Linked DNA regions of Homo sapiens. The protein of the gene in region 4 purifies or fractionates together with the protein of the main gene of each other region. This does not show direct contact. Each region holds a gene or a part of one and is shown on either strand. Other genes may lie near its edges.

Region 1 (3,500 bases), on a different chromosome or scaffold from region 4:
TAAAAAGAGAAAAAAAATCTGACTTGAGAAAGAAAATGCAGATTAAAAATAATAATAATTAACAAAAAAGAGAAAAAAAAGTTTACCTAAAAACGGTATGCCATGTTACATTGACAGTAGCTTCATATTATCTCATATTTACCACGTCTTTTTTTTTTTTTTTGACAGTGGTGCGATCGCAGTGGTGCGATCTCCACTCACTGCAACCTCCACCTCCCAGCTTCAAGTGGTTCTTGTGCCTCAGGAGGCTGGGACTATAGGCATGCACCATGACGCCTGGGTAATTTTTTTTTTTTTTTTTTTGAGATGGAGTCTCCATCTGTCGCCCAGGCTGGAGTGCAGTGGTGGGATCTCAGCTCACTGCAAGCTCCACCTCCTGGGTTCACGTCATTCTCCTGCCTCAGCCTCCGAGTAGCTGGGACTACAGGTGCCCGCCACCACACCTGGCTAATTTTTTTATTTTTTTAGTAGAGACGGGGTTTCACCGTGTTAGCCAGGATGGTCTCGATCTCCTGACCTCGTGATCTGCCCACCTCAGCCTCCCAAAGTGTTGGGATTACAGGCATGAGCCACCATGCCCGGCAGATGCCTGGCTAATTTTTGTGTTTTTAGTAGCAACAGGGTTTCAGCATGTTGGTCAGGCTGGTCTTGAACTCCTGATCTCAGGTGATCCACCTGTCTCAGTCTCCCAAAGTGCTGAGATTACAGGTGCGAGCCACCCTGCCTGGCCCACCACGTCTTGATTGCATTATTTTCTCTTGTGCTTATTTTATTCTCATGCTGTTTTGTTCATCATGGCTCCCAAGTGTACAAAATTCCTGGATAATATTGCCAGTAAGAGGCTGTGTGGATCGTGTAGCAGGCTATGCCATCTAGGTTTGTGTATGTACAGTCTATGAAGTGGGCACAATAATGAAATTACCTAATAGCCACATTTCTCAGAATGAGTTGTCCATCATTATGTGACACATAAGATAAGCCAACATATTAAAAACTAACCACTGAAGTGTTCCCTAAGTTCCCTCCCTGTAGCCATCCTGTGCTGGGGAGAAAGCTGGCTGGATCCAGAGAAAGGTGGCAGGCTCTTACCTGGCTCTGGGGCCTCCTTGCTTATGTGGTCAGCTTCCATGGACCCAATGCCCCCACTAAACATGATGGGCTTGATCCACTCACGCCGCTGGCCGTCTGGGAGCTGGAGGCCCAAGGAGCGGGCGAAGCCTGGAGTGTGAACATCAGAGGGACCTGTCACTCAGTTCCCCCAGTGCTCGCCCAATAGCACAGCCCCTGGGTCGCACACCCCACCCACAAGCCCCTCTGGGTGTTTGTCATCCCTCCACACCCCAGCCTCACCAGCCAGCACTGGTTCCCCAAACTTGTTGCCATAGTCAGAAGCTCCATTACTGGCTTCAATGGCAACCTCCAGGGGCCGGGCAAAATTCCCAGGATACTGGAAGCTTGGATCCTCCCAGGGCAGATTGTAACCTGGGAGGGAAGGAGAGAGAACTGGATGAACTGAATGAACTGTGAAGACAGGCCGGAGCAGCCTGCATCCTTCAGGAAGAGTCAAGGCCACCAAGGACCACCTGCATGGTTGCAATGTTCCACTTCAGGAAGTCCTGCTTTAGGAAGCCCTAGAGCCTGCAGTGAGGCACTGGTCTTCTTTCCACCACCCACACCAGCCTTCCCTCTGAATCTCGCAATCAGAGTTACACAGGCTTTCTGTTTTTTTTTTTGAGATGGAGTCTCGCTCTATCACCCAGGCTAGCGTGCAGTGGCGTGATCTTGGCTCACTGAAAGCTCCGCCTCCCGGGTTCACGCCATTCTCTCGCCTCAGCCTCCTGAGTAGCTGGGACTATAGGCGCCCGCCACCACGCCCAGCTAATTTTTTGTATTTTTAGTAGAGACGGGGTTTCACCGTGTTAGCCAGGATGGTTTTGATCTCCTGACCTTGTGATCCGCCCACCTCAGCCTCCCAAAGTGCTGGGATTACAGGCGTGAGCCACCACGCCCAGCCAAGTTTCTCAGGCTAAGAAACCAGATTTGAGGGGCAGGTACTGATCATAAGACCAACCCAATATCATGCTTTCTGGCTGAATGAAGGCTAGTTTTTAAAGAAAATCGTAGACCTGCAAAAGCAGTCTGGCCACCTCATCTCCCCAGGTCTACACTTATGACCATAGTTAGTGAAAGGCCAGCTATCCTAGAGCCCTTCCTCCTGAGAAAAGGCACACAGGATAACCCTATGGACCTAACAGATAGAAGTTTGCTGCCTGCCAGGACAAGGAATCTGGAAGGGAAGGTGGATAGAGAGGAAGGAGATGGAACCTGGAATATGCAGATTTCCAAAGCAATAGCCGGCAGTGCCAGCCACCACGTGGGCCCCGCGGCCTGTGCACTGGACATCTCGAATCCGGCCCCCTGTGCCAGTGGTTGCACCACTAAAGGGGCATACTCCTGCAAAGAGAGAGTGGGGAGAGGTCTGGGTGCCTCAGAGACAAACCCCCATCTCTGACCACCCCCACTGAAAATAAGGACAACCAATTTCCCTGATTATTTTCCCCAGGCCCACTCCAGGGGCCTGGGACCTTTGCCCTACCCTATTCTGTGATCTCACCTATTTCTCCAGGGAACCCAGCTCACCTGTGGGAAAGTTGTGAGTCTCTGCTGTGAAGACAACATGTCTCAGCCCTTGCTGTTGCTGGAAGCGGCTTGGCCGTGTGGGGTCCTCAGGCCGTAGGAATCGGACTTCCTTTCCCTGGATTGCACTGTGGACATACCCGTCATGGACCTTGCTTCCTTTCTGGGACCTACACTAACCCAACCAGGGCCTGGGGCCTCCCCTCCCCGGGTCCTGACGCCAACCCAGTCTAGGGCACAGCACCTGCTGTTATCACAGAATTTGAGGACGTTGTTGGGGTTCGAGGATTCCTGGGTGCTCATGATGGACTCAAACAGTGAGTGCACCAGCTTCTGCCCATCCACGTGGAGCTGGCCCTTGAAGAACCAGTGTCGGCTGTGCTCGCTGCAGGGGGCGATGCAGGGAGGGGAAGGCAGGTGGAAACGGGGTCATTTCTTAATGCCATGTCTTCTCACCAGCATTTAACAGCAGAGTTACAGCCAAATTCATACTTAGATGACAGATCAAAATATATTCCAAAAAGTCATAATCTTCAAGTATTCTGTCATTTTGGACTATCCAGAGCCAAAGTGAAGATAAAACCAAGATTTGAATGTAGACTCCTTGATGGATGACGGGAGCCCAGGCCCTCAGAGACTCAGGGAGGCCCCTAAGCCAAGGGAGGAACATGAAGGTGAGCCCCTGTGGTCTCTCCCAACACCCATGGGCTCAGGTATGGGAACAACCCCATTTCTCCTCACCTATTGGACTGCGCCAAGTCAAAGGCCTCCACAGTGCTCGGGTTCCGCTGTAGCTCCTGGAAGCGCTTGGTGTAGAAGTCTAGGTCCCAAGAGTCTAAAGCCAGACCTAGGAGACAAATCCA
Region 2 (2,686 bases), on a different chromosome or scaffold from region 4:
TTATGGGAGCAACAAAAAAACAAAGCACATGCTGCCCAGTGGCTTCCGGAAGTTCCTGGTCCACAACGTCAAGGAGCTGGAAGTGCTGCTGATGTGCAACAATCGTACTTGTGCCGAGATCGCTCACAATGTTTCCTCCAAGAACCGCAAAGCCATCGTGGAAAGAGCTGCCCAACTGGCCATCACAGTCACCAACCCCAGTGCCAGGCTGTGCAGCGAAGAAAATGAGTAGACAGCTCGTGTGCACATTTTCTGTTTAAATAAATGTAAAAACAGCCATCTGGCATCTTCCTTTAAAAAAAAAGAAAAGAAAGAAATATTTTCTTTCTTTTCTTTTTTTTTTTTTTTTTGAGACGCAGTCTCGCTCTGTCACCCAGGCTGAAGTGCAGTGGCACGATCTCGGCTCACTGCAAGCTCCGCCTCCCGGGTTCACGCCATTCTCCTGCCTCAACCTCCAGAGTAGCTGGGACTACAGGCACCTGCCACCACGCCCAGCTAATTTTTTTGTATTTTTTTAATAGACACGGGGTTTCACCGTGTTAGACAGGATGGTCTTGATCTCCTGACCTCGTGATCCACCCGTGAGCCACCGCGCCTGGCCTGAAATATTTTATTTTTGTTCATCTTTGTTGTGCTTATAATACTCCTGTTTTCTGTTTATTCCCCTGACTTGAACCAGATGTTAGGGGAGTATTTGAAGCTCCTCGTTCCCTCTCTTCATCAATATCTTCTGTCTAGAAACTAACCAAGCACCTTATCTGGCTCCAGACCTCTCAGTGATCTGTGGGAGGCCAACTCGCAGGATTTCAGCAGAGTTTGCACTTTCTAGGCCTAAAAGATAAGTCCTTCCATGTGTAAGTTCAGATTAAAGGCAACATATTGCATTTACATTTTAGAGAGGTGAACACATTATTTTCTGGGACTTAAGTGTTGTTTTGTTTCTTTTTTTTTTTTTTAATGTAGTTTATTTCTCTTTCTAAGAGATTACAGGATTCAAGAATGGCAATGAATCTTAATAGCCTTTGGGAGAAAGCAGCAAAGCTTTAATACTAAGTTCCAGGACCATGAACTTCCATGTTGTCCTAAATGCATTTTTCAAACATTGCTTTCTGTGCCTACTCTATAAAACCTAAAAATCCAAGGTGACAGTATTCCTTATCTAAAATCCTAAACAAGGCTGGGCGTGGTGGTTCATACCTGTAATCCCAGCACTTTGGGAGGACAAGGCAGGCGGATCACTTGAGCCCAGGAGTTCAAGACCAGCCTGGCCAACGTGGTGAAACCTCGTCTTTACTAAAAATACAAAAATTAGCCGGGCATGGTGGTGCACACTTGTAATCCCAGCTACTCCGGAGGCTGTGGCGGGAGGATTGCTTGAACCCGGGAGACGGAGGTTGCAGTGAGCCGAGATCTCGCCACTACACTCCAGCCTGGGCGACAAAGTGAGACTCTGTCTCAAAAAATTAAAAAAAAATTTTTTTAAATCCTAAATATTCTCATTCCACAGGATCCTGCAAACTGTAGATCCCAAACTTGGAAGTTCTGGGAATTCTGCCAGTATCCCCAAGTAAATCTCTTGGGAAGTTTAGAATGCTGCATGGCGTAGCTGTGCCTGCTCTTATAGAGTGGTGCAGACTCTGCTTCTCCACGTCTGCTAAGTAAAATATTCCAAACACAGATCAGCCTTATCTAGCGAACCATCACTCTGCTCTTGAATTTTCTTTTGGCCTCAAACTCTAGAGCTATAACATGTTAACGGTTTAACACCAGAGGAGAAAGCTATTCTTAAACTACTCAAACATGGTTTTTTTTTCTATTTTTCAGACTCCTGAAACAGACTACTCTTTGCCTTTTTGCTGCAGTTGGAGAAGAAACTGAATTTGAAAAATGTCTGTTATGCAATGCTGGAGACATGGTGAAATAGGCCAAAGATTTCTTCTTCGTTCAAGATGAATTCTGTTCACAGTGGAGTATGGTGTTCGGCAAAAGGACCTCCACCAAGACTGAAAGAAACTAATTTATTTCTGTTTCTGTGGAGTTTCCATTATTTCTACTGCTTACACTTTAGAATGTTTATTTTATGGGGACTAAGGGATTAGGAGTGTGAACTAAAAGGTAACATTTTCCACTCTCAAGTTTTCTACTTTGTCTTTGAACTGAAAATAAACATGGATCTAGAAAACCAACCAGCAAGTTTTCAGTGCCAGATAAAACTCTGCGCTCTAGAGGTAACTCCTCATGGGAGGCAGCTAGGAGTGTTACCTGACACCAGTTTCCTAGAAAACTGTGACAAGCAAAGCAATAACACACGTCGAGAAATATCTGATCAAGCGGGAAATCTTCTGACTGTCGGGGATCTCTAGTAAGATCTCTTGGAATGAAGTGCACTGTGTATCCAAAACTATTTTCCAGCGCCAGTGAAGTTGCTCTTACCTAAAACAAATGGGTTTATGCTAGTTTCCACCAAGGAATGAGTCTCGATGGCCATTAAACTTTCTAAGGCCCACAGGGCTAGGAAAAGTCGCTCTTAAAGGTCAGGTGTTTGGAAAATGTTTTTCCTTTTGCCCAACCCTTAATTAGTAGTAGAGAATGTTCTGTGGCCTATTCCCCTCTCTGGGAGTTCCTGACCCTTCTTTGTTTTCCAGTTTTTCCTACAATAATATAAAATTACGTAAAAGTTAAAACA
Region 3 (4,205 bases), on a different chromosome or scaffold from region 4:
ACTGTTGGTCATATATCTTAGTGTCTATGGTCACTAAATGATGTTGATTGAAGTTTATCTACTCTACTTCAGACACAGTTGAGAATACCTGTCTTCCTTGGAACACTAGGAAGAACGATCAGGAGGCTACACAGCAATCAGTATAATTTGCCAGGTAAAAAGATAACAAGTAATGATTCTTACAACCTGTTCCTTCCATAGTAAAATAATCTCACTTTTCCTCGTTACGTGAAAGAATGTTAATGGCTATGATGAGCACAAGACAAGGCAGGATCTCTTGCAGCCAAAAGAACAGAGAACGTAAAAAACCAAGCTCCTATTTCACAGATCAGGACAAAAAAATAAATAAACAAATCCATCAGTGTAGTTGTCTTCCTACTCAGCTTCATTTAGCTTCCTGAAACGGTCAGCTTTAGGGGAACCTCCGAGAGTTGTTGATTTCCATGCCTAGCCAGGCTTGTTGACTTGGGGAAAGCCACAAACCAAAAAGCCAAATGTAAGCACTTGTACAAAATGAGGGCTTACTTCTAGTACTGGTAGTTTTCTCTGGCACTAAATAAGAGAGAGAAACCCACGTCTGATTCCTTTCAACACATGGTCTGAAGCCTCCCTTTACCAAGGTCTTATCCTAAAGTAGGTAGACTTGAGACACACTGACCCGCCAGATGAGACAAAGTTGCAAATCTCAGGTAGTTGTCACCTCCACTCTGCGGCACCCAACTGCTGCCATAAATTTCCATCATGGGCCCTGTCCAAAAAGGAGCTTATTCTAGGGAGAATATAACCAGCCACGGCTCAAGAGGACAAAGCCTCAAATTTCTCAAGACCAAGAAGCACAAGATGGACTCACTTTCTGCCTGCAGAGAGGCTCCTTCTTGTTCTCTTCGGCCTTTGCATCCTGCTGCGCAGCATCTTTGGGTGTGTTTACTGCTAAAACATCATTGATGGTGGAGCCAACCACCATGATCTTGGCCCCACTGGTCACTTTTATTTCTCTCAATGTTTTATCCTCGGGGACGAGTCCCTTATACATGACTTTCTGCATGGCAGGCGGGAGACCTTGGGAAAAGGTAGAAGGTGGACAGTGAAAGGAAGGAAGGACAGAAAAATGTATGGATACTACACAGCTCTTTGGTAACAGACCAAAAAGTGAATACTGCCTCCACCACCTATTAGCTTTGTGAACTTGGGAGATTTACAACCTCTGAACCTCAGTTTCTAGAACTGTAGAAGATTTATTAGAGTAAGTCCTTCTGTACAGACCTGTTTCAAGGATTAAGAGACCAATGCGGGGCATTTAGTACGGTGGCTAGCATTGAATAATTGTTCAGTAAGTACTAGCTCTCATTCTTTCCAAGTTGTTCCTCAGTCATCTAAATCATTCACATATTAAGTGAGAATCCACAGGCATCAGAGCTACAGAAGCCAATAGGGACAAAACTCCTGTTCTTAATGGAGATTACAAGGCTACATGTAGAAAGCTTTAAAAAAAAAAAAAAGTTCAAGGCCAGGAGTGATGGCTTATGCCTGTAATCCCAGCACTTCGGGAGGCCGAGGTGGGTGGATAAAATAAAAAAAACTAGCCCGGCGGGGTAGCGGGCACCTGTAATCCCAGCTACTCGGGAGGCTGAGGCAGGAGAATCGCTTGAACCTGGGAGGCGGAGGCTGCAGTGAGCCAAGATGGTGCCAGTACACTCCAGCCTGGGCAACAGAGCAAGACTCCGTCTCAAAAAAAAAAAAAAATAGGAAAAAGAAAAGAAATCTCAGATGGCAAAGAGCTATGAACAAGGTAAAATTAAGAAACAGAATCGACTGTGAAGAACCAGCATCAAAGTCAATAGCAGCGTTTCCTAAACTTCACTTAGAAGAATTACCTAAGATATTTGCTAAAAATAAATTCCTGGCTACATCCCAGACCCACTGAATCAGAATCTCCTGGGAAAGGGCCCAGAAGCTGTAAAACAAGCGCCTTAGGTGATTTTTTAATTAGAGATGTTAGAGCAACATCAATGAGAAACTGGGGCCTAAACGTCAGACTTCGGCTTTAATCCCAGCTCTGCAACTTACTAGCTCTATAAACTTGAGTCTCTTTCCCCAGCTGAGTAATGGGCATCCAAGTATCCTTCAGAAGACTGCTGTAAGGATGGGGGGACCTGATGCAAGGAAAGCCACCAGGTGCCTAGTAGGGTGCAAGGGCCATCAGGAGGCGGGGTGGGGAAGACTGGCTGTCAGCGCCACAGGAATTACCTGTAATCGAGTGGATCTTCTGTTTCAGCTCGGAGCCTGTGCTGTCCAGGGGGAACTTCACGTCATGCTTGGTCTTATTCCAGATGATCTTCAAGTCCACCAGCTCCCTGCCCGCGCCGCCGCCCGCGTCTTCGCCGTTGCTGACCGAGGCCTGGGCTGCGGGGTCCCCAGGGGGCTGGGCCGGGGCCGGCTGCAGGCTGCCTCGTGCGGCGCCGGAGTCCTCGGCCGCCGCCCCCGCCGCGGCTTCAGCCTCCAGGCAGTTGACGGGCCGCGCGGGAGCCTCAGTAGCCACAGTCTCGGCCTCCGTGTCCATGCCAGGTTCCTCCATGCCTGCAAGGGGGTTAGGGGGTGGGCGCTCGCCGCGGGCTGGGCTTGGGAACGGACGCTGTCCGGGCGCCGCCGGACCTCCGTTCCCGAGCCGCGGTTCTCCCTCCCGGGCCGGGCCGCATCCCCCAGAGGAGCGACCGCAACCTCAGCCCCGGCCCGGCGCCCGCCACCCCCGCCGCACTCACCATCCGGGGCCCCGGCCGCCGCCATGATGATTGTGTACAACACCCACCGCTCCCGCAGAGGCCGCTGGGAAGAGGCGAGCTGGCTGAGATTGGCCCCCGCAGCAGCCCCTAATCTCTCACAGCCCGGCCGGAAACAGGTGGAGGTTTCTATGGAGACCCGCCTCCTCCGCTCCCAGGTCCGGCCCCTGCCACGCTTTCGCTTTCCCAAGCTGAAGGGGGCGGGTCCGGGAAATAGCCCTTTCTCTGGCCTCTGCCCCCTGGTGGCGAGTGCGGCCGCAGCCGTCCAGGGGGGCGTGGGATTTCGCGCTAGGGGGCCTGTGACTTTAAGGGGCAAGGCTGCGCTGGCTGTGGCGGAGGCCGATTGGCTGGAAGCAGTCCCCGGAAGTGACGCAGGGAGAAGCCCACGTGTGCTATTCCATCCCACATGGCGGCGCTCCTGAGGAGACTGCTGCAGCGCGAGAGGCCTTCGGCGGCCTCTGGCCGCCCCGTAGGACGGCGCGAGGCCAACCTGGGCACTGATGCCGGGGTTGCGGTGCGAGTGCGGTTCGCTCCCAGCCCCACAGGTAACCCTGGCGGACGTGACGCTACAGGCCGAGGCCCCCTGTCCCGTCTCCGCCCCACGAATGTTCCCGAATGAATCCTTTCCGGTGGTGTCAGAGTGGGCGGGCGGAGGAGGGTTAAGGCAGCGCGAGCCCATTTTACAGAGGCGGAAACTGAGGTGCAGGAGCGGAAATAATTCAAATTGCCAGGAGTTTCTTGTGTTTTTTGTGCCATCCCATCTCTTTCGATCTTTTTTTCATGCATTCCATACATGTGCATTGATGACAACCTGTGTAACAGGTGTTGTAGACGCTGGGATACAGTGATCATTGAGAAAGGTAGGGGCCTTGCTCTGTGGAAGTCTGCATTCTAGTGGCTGCCGCAGACACTTATAAAAAATAAGTGTAATTTTAGAGTCACATGTGCCATGCGGGAAGTGAAACAGGATAGGAGACTGGGGATTAAGAAGGACGCTCCAGAAGGCTTTACTGAGCAGGTAACATTTGAGCTGAGATCCAAATGACAAGAAGGAGCACGCTATGTGAAGCCTATAGAAGGAACCTTCTGGAGGCCAGGCGCGGTGGCTCACGCTTGTAATCCCAGCACTTTGGGAGGCAGAGGTGGGTGCATCACTTGAGGTCAAGTGGATCACTTGAGAGCCGTCTGACCAACATGGTGAAGCCCTGTCTCTACTAAAAATACAAAATTATCTGGGCATGGTGGCGCATGCCTGTAATCCCAGCTACTTGGGAGGCTGAGGCAGGAGAATCGCTTGAACGCAGGAGGTGGAGATTGCGGTGAGCCAAGATCGCGCCATTGCACTCCAGCCTGGGCAACAAGAGCGAAACTGTGTCTCAAAAACAAAAAAGAAGGAACCTTCTGGGTAGAGGAAATCGCAGGTACCAA
Region 4 (4,300 bases):
TCACATGTTGTGGAATGAACTGTATGGTCTCTTACAGCCATAAAACATCCAAGTCTCTAGGATTATGCTGTTAGGTTCCAAAGAATATAGTGTACAGTAGTCATGAGAAATATCATGACTTTCTGAGATTATACACACATATGCATATATATGTATGTGTGTATATATATCTCTCTCTTCTCATATAGACATAAATCGGTATCAGAAGGTATATACGATACACAGTGTGTGCATATTTATGTATCTATCCCCTTCCTTTATCTACCTCTAAGCTAGGAGAGGCATCAGGCTGAAGAAGTCAAAGTATAACTACTAAAATGAGATAATATAGAAGAGAAAATATTTTTAAAGAATTAAAAATATAAAGCTATATAAATGCAAAAATATAACTAATGCTTAAGAATTATTAGACTAGTTGGCGGAAAAATTTCTTCTGAAGAGGGAGTAGAGTAATGCTATTGTTATTTTAAACCTCACCAAAAAAAAGTGAACTATACATAATCTCCTATACCAAGCAAAACACTGCAAAAGCTACAGGTGACCAGAATTATATAACGCCTTTTGAGAATGTACAAGCGTTTTCAGGTACATACATTTCATTAATTTCTAGAATGTTTTTAAGAGTTGCCAGACCAAGGCCCTGAAATTTTCAAATATAAAAATCCTATCTTGGAAGGCGGGGACTCTTACAGAGCTGGGGCCTAGTTTAGAATAGCATTATCTTAGATAAGAGCCCAGCCTCCCTCCAAGCCGTAACAGGAAATGCTTCATAAAGAAGTCTGCATCCTTAGTCCCAGACCTCCGCAGTTAGTATTTGGATTCTAGCCTTTATAAATGGACTTCTCAAAGGTGCATCCAACATCTGAGTATTCTGGCAGCAGTAACGTAAAAGGACTGACAAGGAAGGCTGCAGAGAGGTGTCAGACACGAAAACGCTTGAAGACATAAAAATGAGGAGTCTTAAGCACCTAAGAACTGCAATTCCCTATCTGAGCAGCAGGTAAGATTCTGGGGTATCAGATCACTGTATCCAGTTCCAGGTTCTCCACTGGCAGAGAGTGCAGTCTCTGACTTTGTCCTCTGAATGCAGGAACTTTATCGAAGCTAAAGTACCTGCTTTGGACACTTCTGGCACAGGTGTTGGGGTGACAGGAAACATCATCAATTCAGCTGCCAACTACAGCGGAAAAAAACTAGGGAATAATCCTCAGAAAATGGCACTGTTAATGGGTACAAAAAACACAGATAATAGGAATAAGCTCTAGTGTTCAGTAGCACAATAGCGTGACTATAGTTAACAATAATTTATTGTATATTTCAAAATAACTACAAAAATGAATTTGGAACAAAGAAATAAATGATAAATGTTTCAGGTAATGGATATTCCAATTACCCTGATTTGATCACTACACTGTATGCTTGAATCAAAATATCACGTCTCCTATAAATATGTACAACTATTATGTGCCCATAAAAACTAAAAACAAAAAAGAAAGAAAATGACACTTAAATATTAAAATACCTTTTATCCCCGAATCCCACATTTCAGTTTGGTCTTCTGAAAAAATGACTTATCAGTTTCTCAGCTAAAGAAATGATATCGACAGTGTACTACCTAAATTATACCTTATATTCTTTCCTTTCCAAAATATAAATTCGCCAGTGAACAATCTGATCCTAAAGAGGGCGGAAGATTAACCCGCCTAGCATGAGAGCACAGCTTAAAATAAATGCTGTTAAGTAGTCCTCAGGTAGAACAACTTTCCCAGCCAGCAGGCCCAGGAACTCAAGGTCTAGCTTAAGTTGGGTATTTGTATTCAAGAAGGAATTACAATCATGGAGTCAAATGACTTTTTCAATGCAGACGACAAAACGTAATCAAGTCAGTAGACACTTTACTAAGAGGAGGCTAAGCAAATGGTTATTTGCTTAAGGTTAGGGAACTCTTAAGCCCAAGGACCTGAGAGCCTGGGAAGGCGGGGGGGAATGGGTTTGACTCCCAAAGTTTGCGTTTCCGCAAGTGGTTAACACAACTCTAGGAACAAACCCTAAGACCAATACTCCCCACAATCTCATTTCCCCCCATTCTGCATCACCCATCACCCCAAAATAAAAACAGCTACTACAGCACAGCCCTTTGGTTACGCAGGAGGCTGGGACCTGATCCTGGCATAAAAAGCGGATGCGGGCGACCGAGGACCACACACGTGGGGGCGTTCGCGGGCGCTGAAACCAGCTACGAGGCCCACGCCCCCGCCGGGGACAGCTGGTGACCATCACCTTTGGACAGGGGCATTCCCCAGCCGGCCCCGGAACTTGCGAAAGACGCGCAGCCCTTCGGACTCAGCCACTCGCGCAGGGCCCGGGTCCCGGGCGGCTCGGGGCACCTGAGGAGCGCGGCGAAGGCGGGGACAGGGACGGGGACGGGGACGACTCGGGAACAGGGAAGCGCGCGGCCTCCCGCAGGACCCACCTGGATCTGCAACGGCACGAGGCGCACCTTGCAGCGCTCGCTCACCGCGAAGCCCTTGGGCAAGTCCACGTACTGGCCCCACTCCTCGGCGAACAGCTGCACCACGAATTTGCGGTGCATGTCGATCTGGTCGCCGTACAGGCTGAGGAACTTCTGGATGAGCAGCTCGTAGCCCGCCCCGTGTGGCACCGACGAGGGTCGCGCGAAGACTGAGAAACAGAAGAGCACCGGGACTGTGCCCGACGGCGCCCCCGCGCCCCCGGCGCCGCTGTTGGGGAGCGCAAGGACCGCCGGCTCCGCAGCCGCCATGTTCCCCCGAGCGTCTGCGAGCTCCGAGGCCGCCCAGTCGCACCCAGCCGGCTGCCGCGGCCCCGCCTCCCGGCGATGCCAGCCCGCCCGCCAGCTCGCGGAGGCGAAGGGGCGTGTCCTGACGACCGCTGCTCGCGCGCTCTCTTACCCGCCCCGGAGGGCGGGCCGCGGCGTAAGGGTGGGTGGTGGGGCCGGGGTGCGCGCGTGAGCCAGGGAGCGCCTGCGCTCGCCGGCCGGGTCCGCCCCCTCCAGCTTCCCGGGCCGCTGCGTTCCCGCAGTTCCCCGCTCGCGCCCTTTCTGCCGCGGTTCTGACTGCCGGCAGAACGCCTAGTGGTCTCGCAGACCCAAGACCCGCCTGGGCTGCCCGTTGTTCTTGCCCCGGTGCTGCAGCTCACACAAGGGTTTGTACCACCCTTCCCCTAACGCTGGCCCTCTTCGCGGCTTCGCTCGCCTTCGAATGAGCAGTGTTCTTGGCAGTCTAGGGTTGTGGTTGGGTACACAGAGCCGCCAGGACGAGTTACCTGTTGGCTCTGTGCAGAAGCATGCAGTCCTCCTCGAGATGGCAGTGGTATCTTACAACCAAAGGGACAGTCCGATAGATACCCTAAGAAGAGCAGCAGAATTTAATCCTTAGAGGGCCAGTCAAGGTTCAAGTTTTGTCTTTTTTCGGTCCCACAGAACACAATATCTCTAGGAATGGATTTGATATCTGGCCTCCCTTCATCTCAACCTATTTCTGGGAGGACTTGGATTTGGGAATATAAATACTATTAAAAGCAAAAATCTGAACTTTATATTGAAACTAAGGATATCTGTTTTTAAGTAAGTAAAAGGGATCACTTTCAAATAAAACAATCCTCTGCCTTCTGCACACTGTAAGGCGCTATAATTAACTGGAATTAGAAAGCATGCATTATGAACAGAATTTCCTTGGAATTGAGTCCTGCGAAGATAGGCATGGGCCTAAACATAAAATTAGATTTTAGGTATTAAAGCTGTCCTCTTCTAAGAAAATAACCTTTAAAGCAGGGTTTCCCAACTGACACTGTTGACTTCTGGAATGGACATTTCTCTTTCTTGGGGATGGGGCATCTTGTGCATTTGCAGGATATTTAGCAGCATCACCGGCTTCTACTCCCGCTAGATGCCTAGTGACCGCTCCTCCCTCTAGTTATGGCAATCAAAAATGTTTCCAGACATTGCCAAATATTCCCCAGAGGGCAAATATACCCCCTACTTGAGAACCACACTGCTTTAAAGTTATGAAAAGACCATCCTTTGGTGTTTCTTGCTCAATTGTACCGAAGCTACTAGAAATAGCCATTTTTTTCTGGTTCTCATCACACTTTGAGAGATCCCATTTAAAAGTGTTGTCTGAACCCGTCAGACCCAAAATGATATTTTTTTCCGGATACCACTCCATTGCAAGGTCTTCTATATGCAGATATGCTGATTTGTGCTAATAAGTGTACCCCCTCAAGACCTGATTACCAAAAGGTACCTACCTATTTTGGGTGG

The links. Proteins that work in one complex are often made in the same cells at the same time.
Region 1: the proteins of ISOC1 (region 4) and PFAS fractionate together in Homo sapiens (co-fractionation; one large-scale study listed by BioGRID). This does not show direct contact.
Region 2: the proteins of ISOC1 (region 4) and MTHFD1L fractionate together in Homo sapiens (co-fractionation; one large-scale study listed by BioGRID). This does not show direct contact.
Region 3: the proteins of ISOC1 (region 4) and UBFD1 fractionate together in Homo sapiens (co-fractionation; one large-scale study listed by BioGRID). This does not show direct contact.

What each region holds. Positions count from the first base shown.
Region 1 is NC_000017.11:8,255,789-8,259,288, reverse strand, and holds part of PFAS (phosphoribosylformylglycinamidine synthase), read right to left. Parts: intron 3,485-3,500; coding exon 3,379-3,484; intron 3,023-3,378; coding exon 2,882-3,022; intron 2,766-2,881; coding exon 2,641-2,765; intron 2,455-2,640; coding exon 2,326-2,454; intron 1,483-2,325; coding exon 1,351-1,482; intron 1,219-1,350; coding exon 1,090-1,218; intron 1-1,089. UniProt on the Homo sapiens protein: Phosphoribosylformylglycinamidine synthase involved in the purines biosynthetic pathway. Catalyzes the ATP-dependent conversion of formylglycinamide ribonucleotide (FGAR) and glutamine to yield formylglycinamidine ribonucleotide (FGAM) and glutamate.
Region 2 is NC_000006.12:151,099,702-151,102,387, forward strand, and holds the end of MTHFD1L (monofunctional C1-tetrahydrofolate synthase, mitochondrial isoform 2 precursor), read left to right. Parts: exon of another isoform or gene 1-294; intron 295-1,824; 3' UTR 1,825-2,186; downstream 2,187-2,686. UniProt on the Homo sapiens protein: May provide the missing metabolic reaction required to link the mitochondria and the cytoplasm in the mammalian model of one-carbon folate metabolism complementing thus the enzymatic activities of MTHFD2.
Region 3 is NC_000016.10:23,556,322-23,560,526, reverse strand, and holds the start of UBFD1 (ubiquitin domain-containing protein UBFD1), read right to left. Parts: upstream 2,801-4,205; 5' UTR 2,785-2,800; coding exon 2,760-2,784; intron 2,578-2,759; coding exon 2,248-2,577; intron 1,060-2,247; coding exon 851-1,059; intron 749-850; exon of another isoform or gene 659-748; intron 1-658. Other genes in the region: EARS2 (nondiscriminating glutamyl-tRNA synthetase EARS2, mitochondrial), read left to right, coding at 3,184-3,322. UniProt on the Homo sapiens protein: May play a role as NF-kappa-B regulator.
Region 4 is NC_000005.10:129,093,249-129,097,548, reverse strand, and holds the start of ISOC1 (isochorismatase domain-containing protein 1), read right to left. Parts: upstream 2,801-4,300; 5' UTR 2,783-2,800; coding exon 2,474-2,782; exon of another isoform or gene 2,150-2,473; intron 1,001-2,149; exon of another isoform or gene 770-1,000; intron 1-769.